Regions from separate parts of the Homo sapiens genome. Here region 2 is linked to region 1. A link means that fine-mapping ties the variant in region 1 to the expression of a gene that starts in the linked region. Tissue or cell type: whole blood. Region 1 holds a variant in brackets; the other region holds the start of a gene. All regions are shown on one strand. Distances are from middle to middle.

What was found. PIP is the estimated chance that this variant, and not a neighbour inherited with it, causes the effect.
Region 2: it holds the start of PLBD2, and the variant in region 1 is fine-mapped to the expression of PLBD2 in whole blood (INTERVAL, PIP above 0.99).

Annotation. Positions count from the first base shown.
Region 1 is chr12:113,385,659-113,393,378 of GRCh38, reverse strand. It overlaps PLBD2 (phospholipase B domain containing 2), which reads right to left. Exons shown (of 12, transcript NM_173542.4): 10 at 6,290-6,442; 11 at 5,473-5,635; 12 at 1,750-4,920. The coding sequence ends at 4,753. SDS (serine dehydratase) reads left to right here. Exons shown (of 8, transcript NM_006843.3): 8 at 230-934. The coding sequence ends at 438. Among named protein-coding and RNA genes, the nearest start is that of SDS, 14 kb to the left of the region's middle. RefSeq lists an enhancer at 1-165. The variant A/C (reference allele first, on the strand shown) is at 3,967.
Region 2 is chr12:113,354,028-113,361,747 of GRCh38, reverse strand. PLBD2 (phospholipase B domain containing 2) reads right to left here and starts at 3,161. Exons shown (of 12, transcript NM_173542.4): 1 at 2,858-3,161. The coding sequence starts at 3,147. It overlaps LOC105369989 (a long non-coding RNA gene), which reads left to right and starts at 2,238. Exons shown (of 3, transcript XR_945346.3): 1 at 2,238-2,418. RefSeq lists an enhancer at 1,903-2,402 and silencers at 2,738-2,797, 2,848-3,347.

The DNA of each region.
Region 1 (7,720 bases):
ACCACACTCATTCTATCAGTGTTAGCACTCATGATGAAACCCAGGCCCTGGCTCAGGCTTGGAAGGGCCAATTCAGGCCGATGACGGGACGTTTGGTTCAGGACCTGCGGCTGCAGCCAGGGCTGAGAGCTGATTGGCTCAGTATTCCCAGGTCCTGCCAATGGCCTGTCAGCTCCTGTGCACCCTGGGAAACTCAGGCCACGCCCCTGTCACGCCCCTTCTCTGGCAGATGATGAGAAGATCCTGGTGGAGCCCGCCTGCGGGGCAGCCCTGGCCGCTGTCTATAGCCACGTGATCCAGAAGCTCCAACTGGAGGGGAATCTCCGAACCCCGCTGCCATCCCTCGTGGTCATCGTCTGCGGGGGCAGCAACATCAGCCTGGCCCAGCTGCGGGCGCTCAAGGAACAGCTGGGCATGACAAATAGGTTGCCCAAGTGAGGACGGACCCCTTACCGATCTGTGCTCTCCTAGCCCAAGAGACCCCTGGAGGGGCTGGAGTTTTATCCAGCGCCTCGTCGTATGTTTGGCTGAGCACCTGTGGCCTGGGTGCAGGTTAACTTCTTGTTATCAGGAGCCCACTATGCAGAGGCCAAAGGTCGGCAGCCAGCGAGGCTATGAATTGGACCTTTTTGGTATCTGTGTGACTGCTCTGTGCCCATCCTTAGCCAACTTGCTGGCGTGACAAGTGCCCACAAGTAACACACCAGGTACCCAGAGCAGGGTGGACAGGAGAGACCTGAATCACAGCAGTGAGGAATTCCTCAAAGCTGTGACCTCGCCCCTGAACTTGTTCCCAGTGAAGGTCAACAGGGCCACCAACCAGGGTTGAGGAACCATCTCAGCCATCCTCCCAGGAAGCCCACCCCTGACCCTTACTAATTTTTCTAATGTGCAAACTTTTTCATTGAAAAATAAAATATATTTATGAAACAAAGATCCTGTGCATTTTCCCATCATCAGCTGTCTCCTTTCCTGCTTTCCTTCCACCCCAAGTCTGCTCTCAGCCCCAGCTCTCAACTGGGGCCCCAGAGTGAGGCCAGGAGCCTGACTCCAGCTAGTCTTGCATGCCAGGACAGGGGCATCCCTGTACCACAGGAAGCAGGTGGCTAAACAAGAGGGACTTGGGGTGGGACAAAGGCTGCCTCCGCTGAAGGCAGAAGCAGCTGGGGAGGCCAACTTCATTCTGATATGAAGTCCTTCCTACTAAGTCAGAATTATTTCATCACAGACCCAATGGAAGCAAAGAAGTGAGGCCCCCTCCCCTGGGCGTGTGTGAGCTGACACTGGACACCCATCTCTGGGAGAGGGAAAGGGTGGGTGGACTTGAAGTCAATGTCATGCAAACCCTCCTCAAACATGGAGCCCTCTCTTCCAACAAAAGCATATGCTGAAGCCCGTATCATAGATCAAAGAGGAATTACTGGGGCTGGCTCCAGAGCATGGAGGGAACCCCACCCTCAGGGTACTTTCTGGATGACCCCAAGTTCAAACTGAAGTTTAAGAGTCACTCAGGGCTGGGCGCAGTGGCTCACGCCTGTGGGAGGATCGCTTGAGCCCAGGAGTTCAAGACCAGGCTGGTTGGCACAGTGAGACTCTGTCTCTACAAAAAGGAAAAATAACTTGAACCCAGGAGGCAGAGGTTGCAGTGAGCCGGGATTGTGCCATTACACTCCAGTCTGGCGACAGAGTGAGACTCCGTCTCAAAAAATAAATAAATAAATAAAAAGGAAAATAAGATAAAACCACAAGTCAATTCCCAACCCCAGACCCCAACCTTGCTTTATTTTCTCCACGGGTTTACCAGCACTGACACACTGCATATTTCATTTATTTTGTTTACTATCTAGTCAATGTAAACTTCACAAGAGCAGGAATGCTTCTGTCCCTTTTGTTATAAAGTATCCCCGGGACCTCATAACAGTGCCTGGCATGTACTAGGGGTTCAATAAGTGTTTGCTAATAAAGAGATGCTGAGTGCATGAGGCCCCAAGTGGGCTGCATCACATCCCCCAGGGAAACGCTGCTCACACCATTACCCCATTTCACAGATGAGGTAATCGAGGCTCAGAGAGGAGTCCATAGCTAGCTAATAAGAGGTGGAGACAGAATTGAAACCCAGGTCTCTGACTCCAGGGCTGTGTGCTTTCCTCTCTCCAAGCACACAGCACTGGGAGAGTCTTGTCTCCAAGGCAGGCTGCATGAGATCAGACAGGGAGAGAGCCTTTTTTTTTGTATCTGTCTGTATACCACAATATGGCTTAGGAAGGTCTTGGTGGTTAACAAGGCTCCCAAATAGGACCCAGAACACAGGTGCTCAATAAACATCTGGATGGATAGATGGATGGATGGATATGAATGAATGGATGGCTGATGGATAGAAAATAGATAAATATGGATGCATGGGTGGATATTAATGAATCTGCACAGACCCGTGTGTGGATGGATGGGTGATAAATGAATAGGTAGGTGGATGGACGGGTGGGTGGGTGGATGGATGAATGGATGGATGAGTGGGTGGATGGATGGGTAGATGGGTGATAAATGGATAGGTGGACGGATGAGTGAATGGGTAGATGGGTAGATGGATGGAAATGAACAGATGGAAATGGTTGGATGGGTGGATAAATGGTTGGAAGGATGGATGGATGGGTGAGTGGGTAGATGGATGATAAATGGATAGGTAGGTGGATGGATGAGTGAATTAGTAGATGGGTAAATGGGTGGAAAATGAACAGATGGAAATAGTTGGATGGGTGGATAAATGGTTGGAAGGTTGGATGGATGGGTGAGTGGGTAGATGGATGATAAATGGATAGGAAGGTGGATGGATGAGTGAATGGGTGGATGGGTAGATGGATGGAAAAACAGATGGAAATGTTTGGATGGGTGGATAAATGGTTGGAAGGATGGATGGATGGATGGGTAAATGGGTGATAAATGGATAGGTAGGTGGATGGAGGAGTGAATGGGTGGACGGGTAGATGGATGGAAAATGAACAGATGAAAATGGTTGGATTGATGGTTGGATGGGTGATTGGATGGATGGATGGGTGGATGGGTGACAAATAGGTAGGTGGATGGGTGGATAGGTGAGTGGGTAGATGATTGGGTGGGTGGATGGATGGATGCGTTGGCAGATGGGTGGATGGATGAATGGATAGGTAGTTGGATGGGTGGGTGGATGAATGGGTGGGTAGATAAATGGGTGGGTGGATGGGTGATAGATAGATAAGAACTTCGTAAGCCATGCTGTGGTATACAGACCAATACAAAAAAGGATCCCTCCCTGTCTGATCTCATAGGTGGATGGATGAGTCAATGGCTGGATGAGTAAATGGGTGGGTGGGTAAGTGGATGGAAAATGGACAAATGAGGCCAGGTGCGGGGGCTCACATCTGTAATCCAAGCACTTTGGGAGGCCAAGACGGGCGGATCACTTGAGGCCAGGAGTTCGAGACCAGCCTGGCCAACATGGTGAAACCCTGTCTCTACTAAAAATACAAAATTAGCCAGGCATGGTGGCTCATGCCTGTAACCCCAGCTACTTGGGAAGCTAAGGCAGGAGAATCGCTTGAACCCAGGAAGCAGAGGTTGCAGTGAGCAGAGATTATGCCATTGCACTCCAGCCTGGGCAATAGAGTGAAACTCCCACTCAGAAAAAACAAAAACAAAAAAAAAAGAAGAAGAAAGAAAATGGACAGATGGAGATGGCTGAATGGTTGGATGGGTGGTTGGATGGGTGAGTGGATGGATGATAAATGGATAGGTAGATGGATGGATGGATGATGGAAGACGGATGGGTGGGTGGAAGGCTGTGCAGATGGATGATGGGTGAGTATGTTGGCAGATGAATGAATGGACAGAAGGACAGACAGAGGGCTGCACAGGAGGCTGCATGGGGGATGGCGCAGAACCCAAACCTGAGAGGAGAAAAAGCGCTGACCCCACCTTCCCTGCCACCCCAAG[A/C]AGCACAGCATGGGGCCACAGCCGCTCTTGTTTAATGGTGGCACAGCCTGCGGTCTGGTTCCTCCATCAGGGCGCTGTGGGTATGGCCCTGAGGTGAGGGGCAGGCCTGGGGTGGGGTGGGGTGGGGCCTGAGGCAGAAGCATGGGGGCTGACCCTCTGCCTGACATGGAGAGAGGACATTCAGAACCCTCCAGCCACAGATGGCCAGAAACTTTGGTTTGTGTTTGTTTTCAAGTTTCTGTCCTCAAGGAAGCTGCCCAGAAAGGGAGACGAGGGGACTGCTTCCTGAGGGAGCAGAGGGGCCAGAGCTGGGAGGAGCAATGCCAGCCGAAGACAACGCCCAGACAAAGCTCACCAGCTCCAGGGCCACCCGTGGGAATGCAGCTGGGAGAAGGGTGCTGGAACAGGCTCCTTCCACCCCATGGGAGCCCCAGAGTCTGCCCCAGGACCTTCCCAAACCCTCAGGAAGGAGAAGCACGAGGAAGGGGCCCCAGAGGTGGGAATGAGGTTGAGAGAGCAGCAGTAGGAAACAGACAGAAACAGAGAGTGGGAGATTTAGGGCAGGGCAGAAGAGACGCCACGGTGCCCACCCACCTCGGGGGAGAGAGGGGGTCAGTTCTGAGCCCCATCAGGTTCGTGACCCACTCTAGGAGGAGATGACTCAGACCCCAGATCAGAGAACGAAGCCCCCAGGAGGGGCTGGAGTTAGAAGTCCGGTGGCCTTGGGACGGGGGTGACCCTGACGAGGGTCAGCAGGGGCGAAAGCAGCAGAGCAGGGACAGAACTTCAGTCCCATGAAACCTTGACAGGCGCGAACTTCCAGAGGTCTGGCTGGCCCATGTGCAGCAGGCCGCTGAAGGGCGAGGTGCTCCACTGGAACGGGGGCACCTGGTCCCACGTGGGACCGCTGGCCGCCAGCAGGCTCAGGATCCTGGCCAGTGACATGCTGGTCACCTGGGGACAGGGCAGAGCCGCAGCTGAGCAGGGGTCCTGGCCTGCCCCAATCCAGGCACCCAGCCTCCCACCCTGACCTTGACCCCAGAGCCCAATTCTGAACTGTCACTTTTTTTTTTTTTGAGTCTCTGCTCTGTCACCCAGGTTGGAGTGCAGTGACGTGATCTTGGCTCACTGCAACCTCTGCCTCCCGGGTTCAAGCAATTCTCATGCCTCAGCCTCCTGAGTAGCTGGGATTACAGACGCCCGCCACCACGCCTAGCTAATTTTTGTATTATTAGTAGAGACGGGTTTTCACCATGTTGGCCAGGCTGGTCTCAAACTCCTGACCTCAAGTGATCTGCCCACCTTGGGCTCCCAAAGTGCTGGGATTACAGGCATGAGCCACCGTGCCCAGCCCATACTGTCACCTTTACTGTGACCCCAACCACAGCCCAATTCCGACTGTGATTCCTGCCCCGCCATCAGCTTTGCCCCAACCTGTCCCTTCCCCAAAGCTGGTGATGGTGACTTCCCCCACCCACAGCTCAGGCCCTAGGGAGGAGGCAGCACCTTCACATCGATACCCCCATGGGAGCGCTGACGCAGGGCCTGGAAGGGGTAGGAGCCATTGGCCGGGTTGAGGTCGGAGCGGGCGGAGATAGCATTCTCCCCATTGGGCTGGGGGTTGCAGGCTTTGCACAGTGACAGAGGGTCATGGAGGAAGTCATTGTACCTGGATGGGGAAAAGGAGGGAACATCAGTCATCCCAGGAAGGAGAGGCTAAGACGGGGGCCAAAATCCTCACAGGCAGCCCCGTTAACAGCTGCCAGCCTTCAACTTGATGAGCCCCTCCCACTGCACACTACCCCCGACAGTTCCTCTGCCTGGGGCCCGGACCCCTTCACCTAAGTCACTCTGCCTTCATTATTCAGCTCTCTGCTCAGGCACTCATCCTCAGGGAAGGCCTCCATGCCACCACCCCAGCCAGGTGAGGCACCCGTTTGTTCCTGGATAGCCTCTCTTGGAACACAGCCATCTTTACACATTGACACCAGTGCAAGAACTTGATGGATTTCTGCACCGCCCAAGAGACAGGACAGTGGGGCACAGGTTTTCTACCTGTTGCTCCTGGTACCAAGCATAGTGCCTAGCAGTACAGGTCACTCAACAGATGTCTAGCATCCTCCCCTTAGCTATGAGGACAGTGACAGGGCCCAAGTGGAGAGCGGCCACCGAGCTGCTGCACTGGTGTCCAACATCTGACCACCCCCTGCTGGCCCTCTGGGGCTGGCAGCAAAGTTTGAATGAGTTGGTACAAAAAGCGCACAGGAAGTTCTGTGTTCCTGCGGCCTCCCTCTCCCCAACCCACCACCCAACTGGCACCTACCTCATCAGCCTGACCATGGAGTCCATGTCTTGTACCAGTGACTGGTTCCGCCGGAAGATCTGGGCCCGGGGGCTCCCGTCATAAGAAAACCAGTCCCCATACTGGGCCACTAGGGCCTGCAGCCCACTGGCATTGAACACAGTCTCGAAGGACCTGCCGGGGACAAGGATGGTCACCCATGACCCCCACTGGCCTCACTCAGCCAAGGCTGTGGCCAGGGAGGGGAGGGGCAGTCACACCAGGACATTATTACTTACAACTACGACATTCAGGCTGGGTGCAGTGGCTCACACCTGTAATCCCAATACTTTGGGAGGCCGAGGCGGGCAGATCACCTGAGCTCAGGAGTTTGAGACTAGCCTGGCCAACATGGTGAAACCCTGTCTCCACTAAAAATACAAAAATTAGCCAGGCACGGTGGTGTGTGCCTGTAATCCCAGCTACTCGGGAGGCTGAGGCATGTACTCACTTGAACCTGGAAGGTGGAGGTTTCAGTGAGCTGAGATCGAGCCATTGCACTCCAACCTGGGCGACACAGCGAGACTCCGTCTCAAAAAAAAAAAAAAAAAATTAGCCGGCGTGGTGGCACGTGCCTGTAATCCCAGCTACTTGGGAGGCTGAGGCACAAGAATCACTTGAACCCGGGAAGCAGAGGTTGCAGCAAGCTGAGATCGCACCATTGCACTCCAGCCTGGGCGACACAGCGAGACTCCGTCTCAAAAAAAAAAAAAAAAATTAGCCGGCGTGGTGGCACGTGCCTGTAATCCCAGCTACTTGGGAGGCTGAGGCACAAGAATCGCTTGAACCCGGGAAGCAGAGGTTGCAGCAAGCTGAGATCGCACCATTGCACTCCAGCCTGGGTGACAGAGCGAGACTCTGTCTCTAAAAACAAACAAACAAACAACAACAACAACAACAAAACCAACTATGACATTCGGGATAACAATAATGTCTTCCATTTGTGCTGGGGGGTGGCTTGGTGGGGTGGCCAAGCTTGGGCTCTGGGGCCCAAAAGGCATGGCATCAAATCCTGCCTTCAGTCCGGGTGTGGTGACTTATGCCTATAATCCCAGCACTTTGGGAAGCCAAGGCAGGCGGATCACTTGAGGTCAGGAGTTTGAGATTAGACTGGCCAACATGGTGAAACCCTGTCTCTACTGAAAATAGAAAAATTAGCCAAGGATGGTGGCTGGCGCCTGTAATCCCAGCTACTCAGGAGGCTGAGGCAGGAGAATCACTTGAGCTCAGGAGGCGGAGGCTGCAGTGAGCTGAGATTGCACCATTGCACTCCAGCCTGGGTGACAGGGCAAGATTCTGTCTCAAAACAAAAAACAAAAAACAAATCCTGCCTTCACCATTCGCCAACAGGGGAAGCTTGGGAAAGTGAGGTACTTTCTCAGGGCCTCAGTTTCATCATCTGTGAGATGGGAA
Region 2 (7,720 bases), 32 kb after region 1:
TCCTAGTGACATCTCTGATCTCCAAGCACCAAATCATAAATGTTTCCAGGCTGTGTGGGGGTGTTGGCCCAAAGTCAAGATATGGCACAACTGAAAGAAGGTACCGAGCACAGTGGCTCACATCTGTAATCCCAACATTTGGGGATGCTAAGGTGAGAGGATCACTTGAGCCCAGGAGTTCAAGACCAGCCTGGGCAACATGACAAGACCCCTGTTTCTACAAAAAAAAAGAATTTAAAAATTAGCCAGGCATGGGGGTGCGTATCTATAGTCCCAGCTACTTGGGAGGCCGAGGTCGGAGGATTTCTTGAGCCTGGGAGTTCAAGGCTGCAGTGAGCCATGATCATACCACTGCACTCGAGCCTGGATAACACAGGGAGACCCTGTCTCAAAAAAAAAAAAAAAACAAAAAAAAAAAAACCTTTTTTAAAAAATAAAAAAGACGAAGGATTATGGTGTAGGGAGAATTTATCCTGATAATCCCAGGATCCCCAGTGGCAAAATCTGGGGATTTCACCAGGAAGGAGGAGGATCCTAATTCTGAGTGAACAGAGGCATCAAATCCCTGCCCCCACCCTCCGAAATAAGACACAGAGTCCCCCACAGATCAGAGATTCTGCTGATCAGGAGCCAGGACACCCCCTATGGCTTTCTTTCATCTGACCCTGAGTCCTCAAGCAGCTGTCTCTGAGGACCTCAGTTTCCTGCCTATAAAATGGGGCTCGCTTTATGGTTTTCCCTGCATCAGAGCCTCAAGGGCTGGCAAACTCAAAGGGAAAGGGGCATGTGAGCGTAAGAGGAGGGGATGAGAGAGGGTGCCGAAAACAAGCCAGAAAGTCCAAGATGGGCAGATCACCTGAAGTCAGGAGTTTGAGACCAGCCTGGCCAACATGGTGAAACCCCATCTCTACTAATAATACAAAAATTAGCCGGGCATGGTGGCACACACCTGTAATTCCAGCTACTTGGGAGGCTGAGACACGAGAATCGCTTGAACCCAGGGTGGGGAGGTTGCAGTGAGCCAATATCGTGCCCCTGCACTCCAGCTGGGCAACGGAGTGAAACTGTGTCTCAAAAAATAAAATACAAATAAAAATAAATAAACAGTGCTTTCTGTGACCCCAGTGAATTTCCATGACCCTTTTGGTCCTACCTTGATATGAGGGAACATGCTCAGAGAGGTGAAGGGATTTGCCCAAGGTCACACAGCAGAGGGGCTGAGCCTGGAAGAACTTTCCATCCAGCACAATCAAGGAAGCCTTCTCTCCACTTCCATGTTTACCATAGTCAAGAGCAACACAGCCCAGGAGGGGCCTCCAGAGGCCAAAGCCCCCTCCCCATGCTGGGCCTCGCTCCTGCCCCTCCTCGCCTGAACAGTTCTGTCATGTCCTCTTGATTCTGCTATGCAGGGCCAAAAACATGAGTGAGTCAGCAAAGAACGGGTCACCAGATCCAAGAGTCCCGGCAGCCCCCGAGGCCAGCCACAAAGCTTCAGTTCCCTCCACAGATGCCAGCTCACTCTGTGGCCTCCTCTCTCTGGGAGCCTTCCCAGATTTACCCCAACCAGTGCCCCTGTGTCTGTGCAAATATCTCCCCCAAATCTCACGTCTACTTGATGTACCCCCCAAGTGCCACCAGAATGGGGGTGTCCTCGGCATCCTGTGTCTCCCTAACACCTGCAGAAGCCAATGGATGCCAGTAAAATGGATAGGGGCTAAAGTGGGAGGAGGCCCTTTCTGCTGCAGGGGGCAGTGTGGTCTGAGCACAGACCACATCCTGGGCACATCCTAGTGCTAGGGTTCCCTAGCATCATCTGGACACTAGGATATGACGGATGCACCCCGGGTTCCCTAGGATCCCCCAGCACAGCCTGATCCAGCGTCTGGGCCCTGCTGACAAGGCTTTGAAGCTGATCCTTCCCACTCCCACTGACTCTGATTTCTCTTCTATCGCTGTCTGTGTTTCCCACTGAGTAGAGACAGCTGCTCAGCTGTGTCCCTAAGGCCAACCATCAGGGTAATGAATAAATGAATGGGCACAAGCCCTTGTACAGAACTTGCAGCACATGACCACCCAACTAGAGCACATCCTCAAAATCTGGGCCACAGATGGGGAAACGGGAGCCCAGACAGGCGGAGGAGTTAGGTGAGACTCACACATCAGAATGACAGCCTGGGTTCCAGCAATAAAGATGGTGAGCATGGCTGCCAAACACGGCATCCAGCCAAGGACTTCCCCTTGGACCAGGACACAGAAGACAAGGGAGGAGCAGAGCCCTAGCAGGATACTAAATGGGTCTATGTGACTTTAGGGACCCTCTGCTTTTGGACTAGCCTGGAACCCAGGTTCAGTCCTGCTGACCTGGCACTGGAAGGGAGGCAGGGTGCTGGCACCCACGAGCAAGCCACAGCCAAGCAGGTAAGAATTAGTCTCCTGCTGAGTTCTCATCACCCCTCAGGCCTGGGGACAGGGGGCTGGCCTCCATGGGGTGAGGAGGCAAAGTCTAGGGAAGGGAGCAGGTCCCCGTGAGGATAGAATTTACCCACCAGCCATGGACCTGATCCAGATGCAGGCACTGCGGCCTCGGTGGTAGGGAACTGGCTTCTTGGGGACAGAAGTACTGTCACCACTGGCTGAAGGCAAGGGACTGGCCCCATGAGGTGAGGGATGCCGCAGTAGCCAGCTCCCAAACAGGGTACTTGGCCCGCAGGGCGGTGCTGCAGCCTCGGGAGTAGCTGACCCCCAGAGAAACGGGCGTTCCCACCCGGCAAGAGGCCGGTCCCGGGAACAGGCGAGGTCCGGCGCCCACGCATCCCCCTCCCCCGATGGCCCCGCGTGGGGATAAGCCAACCCTTACCCAGTCTCGCGGATGGCGTTGGTGAGGTTGGCCCAGGCCACGGCGTCAGGGTGGCGTCCGTCCACCATAAGCAGCTGGCCCGCCGAGACGTCCAGGAGCACCGAGCGGCTGCGGGAGGCTGGAGGGACCTGCCCATCGCGCGCCCAGCGGCCCCCCGGCGCTGGGATCGCCCCCGCCAGGCCGCTCAGGAACGGCCCGACCAGCAGGGCCAGCACCAGGGCCAGCGCCAGCGCCCGCGTCAGCGCCCGGGCCAGGTGGCTGCCGGGGTAGCAGTACATCTGGCCCACCATGACCGCACAATGCTGCGCCCCGCAGCCCGGGTCACGTGACTGCGCTCTGCCATGGGCGGGGCCGAGGGCGGGCGGGGCCGGGCTTGGGCTGAGCCTTTCCGGGATGGGAGGGGCTGGCGCGAGGGGAGGCCTACGGGGCGGGACCCACCTTAAAGAGCCCGGCCGCCCCTTCCACCTACGCAAACCCGGTTTAGCACACTTCCCCAAGTTTTTTTTTTTTTTTTTTTTTGAGACAAGACAAAACCTCCATATGTCGCCCAGACTGGAGTGCAGTGACGCGATCTCGGCTCATTGCCACCTCCGCCTCCCGGGTTCAAGCGATTCTCCTGCCTCATCCTCCTGAGTAGGTGGGATTACAGGCGCGCACCACCACGCCCAGCTGATTTATGTAATTTCAGTACAGACGGGGTTTCGCCATGTTGGCCAGGCTGGTCTTGAACTCCTGACCTCAGGTGATCCGCCTGCCTCAGCCTCCCAAAGTGCTGGGATTACAGGGGTGAGCCACCGCGCCCGGCCAGATTTATTTAATGGTATTTGCCATTTATTTAATACAGTTATCTAATGCAGTCTTTATTCCAACTTTTCCCATTGTCCCTCAAATACCCTTTTTACATGTGTGTGGGAAAAAGCTGTCTAACTACTACTCAAAACCTAGATGCCGTCGGGCGCGGTGGCTCACGCCTGTAATCCCAACACTCCAGGAGGCCAGGGCGGGCGAGTTCAGGAGTTCAAGACCAGCCTGGGCAACATGGTGAAACCCCCGTCTCTACTAAAAATACAAAAAAGTAGCCGGACGCAGTGAGGCGCGCCTATAGTCCCAGCTACTCGGGAGACTGAGGTAGGAAAATCACCTGAGCCCGGAAGGTCGAGGCTGCAGAGAGTCGAGATTGCACCACTGCACTCCAGCCTGAGCAACCAGAATGAGACCTTGTCTCAAAAGAAAAAAAAAAAAAAAAAAACCTAGATGCAATAAAAGATTAATGCATTTGACTGTATAAATTTTTTAACTTTTTCATGTCAAAAAACTCAATAAGCAAAGTCAAAAGACATCTGACAGACCAGGAGAAACTATTTGCAACATATATCATATATATACATTACATATATATATGTATATATATCTCAACATATATCATATAATATATCAGGAACTCTTAAAATTTGAGAGGGAAGGCCAGGTGAGTGGTTCATGCCTGTAATCACAGCACTTTGGGTGGCCAAGGTGGGAGGAATGCTTGAGCCCAGGAGTTTGAGACCAGCCTAGGAAACCTGGCAAGACTCTGTCTCTATAAAATATAAAAATTAGCTGAGCTTGGTGGTGCACACCTGTAGTCCTGTTGTGGGAAACTGAGGAACGGAGAGACCAATATGAGAGAACAGGAGGATGTTTATTTCAACGTACGCACTGGCTCAGTGGATTCACATCCAAAAAGCTGAGCCTAGAACAAAGATATTGTGGGGTTTTTATAAGCAAGCTTAGAAAGGTAAAACAAAAGTAGTTAATCATATAGTGCATAACTTGTGGCCTTGCATAGCTGGTGGCCTTGTAGCTGCATCAAAAGTAAAACAAGAACTGGCTAAATAGAGAGGTTTGTAAAACATAGTCATGCTTAAGAGACCAAGGAAAGGAATAGCAATAAAATAATTTGTCTTTCTCTCTTTTTTTTCCTTCAACCTTGCTCTGGAGGCGGGCGGTGGGGTGGAGGGCGGGGTCTGGAGCCCAGTCCTCTGGCCTTGGCTTTTCGGACAGCGTTATCTTATAACTGTCCTTGAAGTGAGCTGCTAAGCAGAGGAAAACTTGTTCTTCTTCTTTTTTAACCCTTGCCTTGCCACATTCTGGGCCTTAGCTCTTACTTCTCTTGGAGTGAATATATGTAGTACTTATTATTATTATTATTTTAATTTCTGCCTCAGTCCCAGCTACTGGGAGGCCGAGGGGGGAGGATTGCTTGAGCCTAGGAAGTCGAGGCTACAGTGAGTTGCACTACAGCCTGGGCAACAGAGCAAGAAGTTGTCAAAAAGGAAAGAGAGAGAGAGAGAGAGAAAGAGAGAGAAAAGGAAGGAAGGAAGGGAGGGAGGGAGGGAAAGGGAAGGAAGGGAAGGAAGAAAGGAAGGAAGGAAGGAAGGAAGGAAGGAAGGAAGGAAGAAAGAAAGAAAGAAAGAAAGAAAGAAAGAAAGAAAGAAAGAAAGAAAAGGTTTGAGAAGGAAAATGTGAAAACCAGACAGAAAACATGGGCAAAAAGCATCAGCAAATAATTCATGAACAAAGATGTAGAAGTGACCATTATATTTATGAAAAATGCTTGCTTCATTCACTATAGGAGAAATGCAAATTAAAGCTACACTGAAAATAAACATTCAGAGAAATATATGGTGAGAGAGCGTATACCCTGAATGGTACATTCAGGGTAACATGAAGCGATGCTCCTAAGTGCCCAACCTCAATCTTCGGGTGAAAACAAACTCTATACTTAACCATTCAAAAAAGAAGAGGCCAGGTGCAGTGGCTCATGTCTGTAATCCCAGCACTTTGGGAAGCCGAGGCAGGCAGATCACGTGAGGTCAGGGGTTCAAGACCAGCCTGACCAACATTGTGAAACCCCATCTCTACTAAAAATACAAAATAATTAGCCGGGTGGTGGCATGTGCCTGTGGTCCCAGCTGCTGGGGAGGCTGAGGCAGGAAATTCGCTTGAACCTGGGAGGTGGAGGTTGCAGTGAACCGAGATCATGCCACTGCATTCCAGCCTGGGCGACAGAGTGAGACTCTGTCCAGAAGAAGGAGAAGGAGAAGAAGTAAGAAATATACAGTGAAAATAGAGTGCATGTAAAGACTGCTGAAATAAGGTCTGTAATTTAGTTTTTTGATTTTTGTTTTCTTGGGTTTGAGACAGGGTCTCACTTTGTCGTCCAGGCTGGGATGCAGTGGTGCAATCATAGCTCACTGTAGCCTCAATCTTTCAGGCTCAAGTGATTCTCTCACCTAAGTCTCCTAGGTAGCTGGGCTACAGGCATGCACCACCACACCTGGTTAATTTTTTTGAGTTTTTGAAGAGATGGAGTCTTACTTTGTTGCTTGACTGGTCTCAAACTCCTGGGCTCAAGCGATCCTCCCACCATGGCCTCCCAAAGTGCTGGGATTTGTAATTTAAAGTACCATATCAGGCCGGGTTCGGGGGCTCATGCCTGTAATCCCTGCACTTTGGGAGGCCATGGTGGGAGGATCGCTTGAGCTCAGGAGTTCAAGAGCAGCCTGAGCAAGATGGTGAAACCCCATCTCTACTAAAAATCCAAAAAAAATTTATCTGGGCATGGTGGCACACGCCTGTAATCTCAGCTACTCGGGAGGCTGAGGCACGAGAATTGCTTGAACCTGGGAGGCGGAGGTTGCAGTGAGCTGAGATTGTATCACTGCACTCCAGCCTAGGTAACAGAGTGAGACCCTGTCTCAAAAAATTTTTAAAAGTTAAAAAAAAAGTTCCATATCAAAGTCAATTTCCTGATTTTGATATTTATACTCTGGTTACATAAGTTGTTATCACTGGGAGAAACTAGATAAAGAGTACATGTTTTCAAAAACAAAAACTTTAGGGCCGGACACAGTGGCTCACGCCTGTAATCCCAGCACTTTGGGAGGCCGAGGCGGGTGGATCATGAGGTCAGGAGTTCAAGACCAGCCTGGCCAAGATGGTGAAACCCCGTCTCTACTAAAAATACAAAAAAAAATTACAGCATGCCTGTAATCCCAGCTACTCGGGAGGCTGAGGTAGGAGAATCGCTTGAACCCCGGGGGCGGAGGTTGCAGTGAGCTGAGATCGCACCACTGCACTCCAGCCTGGGTGACAGAGCAAGACTCCCTCTCAAAAAAAAAAACAAAAAAAAAAACTTTAAATAAACTACACTGAGATATCATTTCTTTCTATGAGATTAAAAAAAAAAAGTTTAGAAGCTTGACAACATACCCTGTTGGTGAGCCTGGAGAAACAGGCACATGCACGTTGCTAGTGGGTATGCAAAAGACAGGAAGAGTAATGTCTAACAAAACACCAAGGGCATCTACCTCTGACCCAGCAATCCCACCTCTAAGTATTTATCCATAAGGTTATTTATTGCAGCATTGTTTGTAATTTTAAACTGTTGGAAACACTTTCAAGCCCATACATAGAAGCTTCATTAAATAAACCACACAACAGCTGGGAAATGGAATACTATGCAGCTATAAAAAAGAATGAGGCCGGGTGCAGTGGCTCACGCCTGTAATCACAGCACTTTGGGAGGCCGAGGCGGGTGGATTACAAGGTCAGGAGTTCAAGATCAGCCTGGCCAATATGAGGAAACCCCATTTCTACTAAAAATACAAAAATTAGCCAGGCATCGTGGCAGGCGCCTGTAGTCCCAGCTACTCGGGAGGCTGAGGCAGGAGGATCACTTGAACCCAGAAGGCGGAAGTTGCAGTGAGCCAAGATCACACCAATGCACTCCAGCCCAGGTGACAGAGTGAGACTCCATCTCAAAAAAAAAAAAAAAAAAAAAAGAGAATGAAGAGGCTGGGCACAGTGGCTCATGCCTGTAAT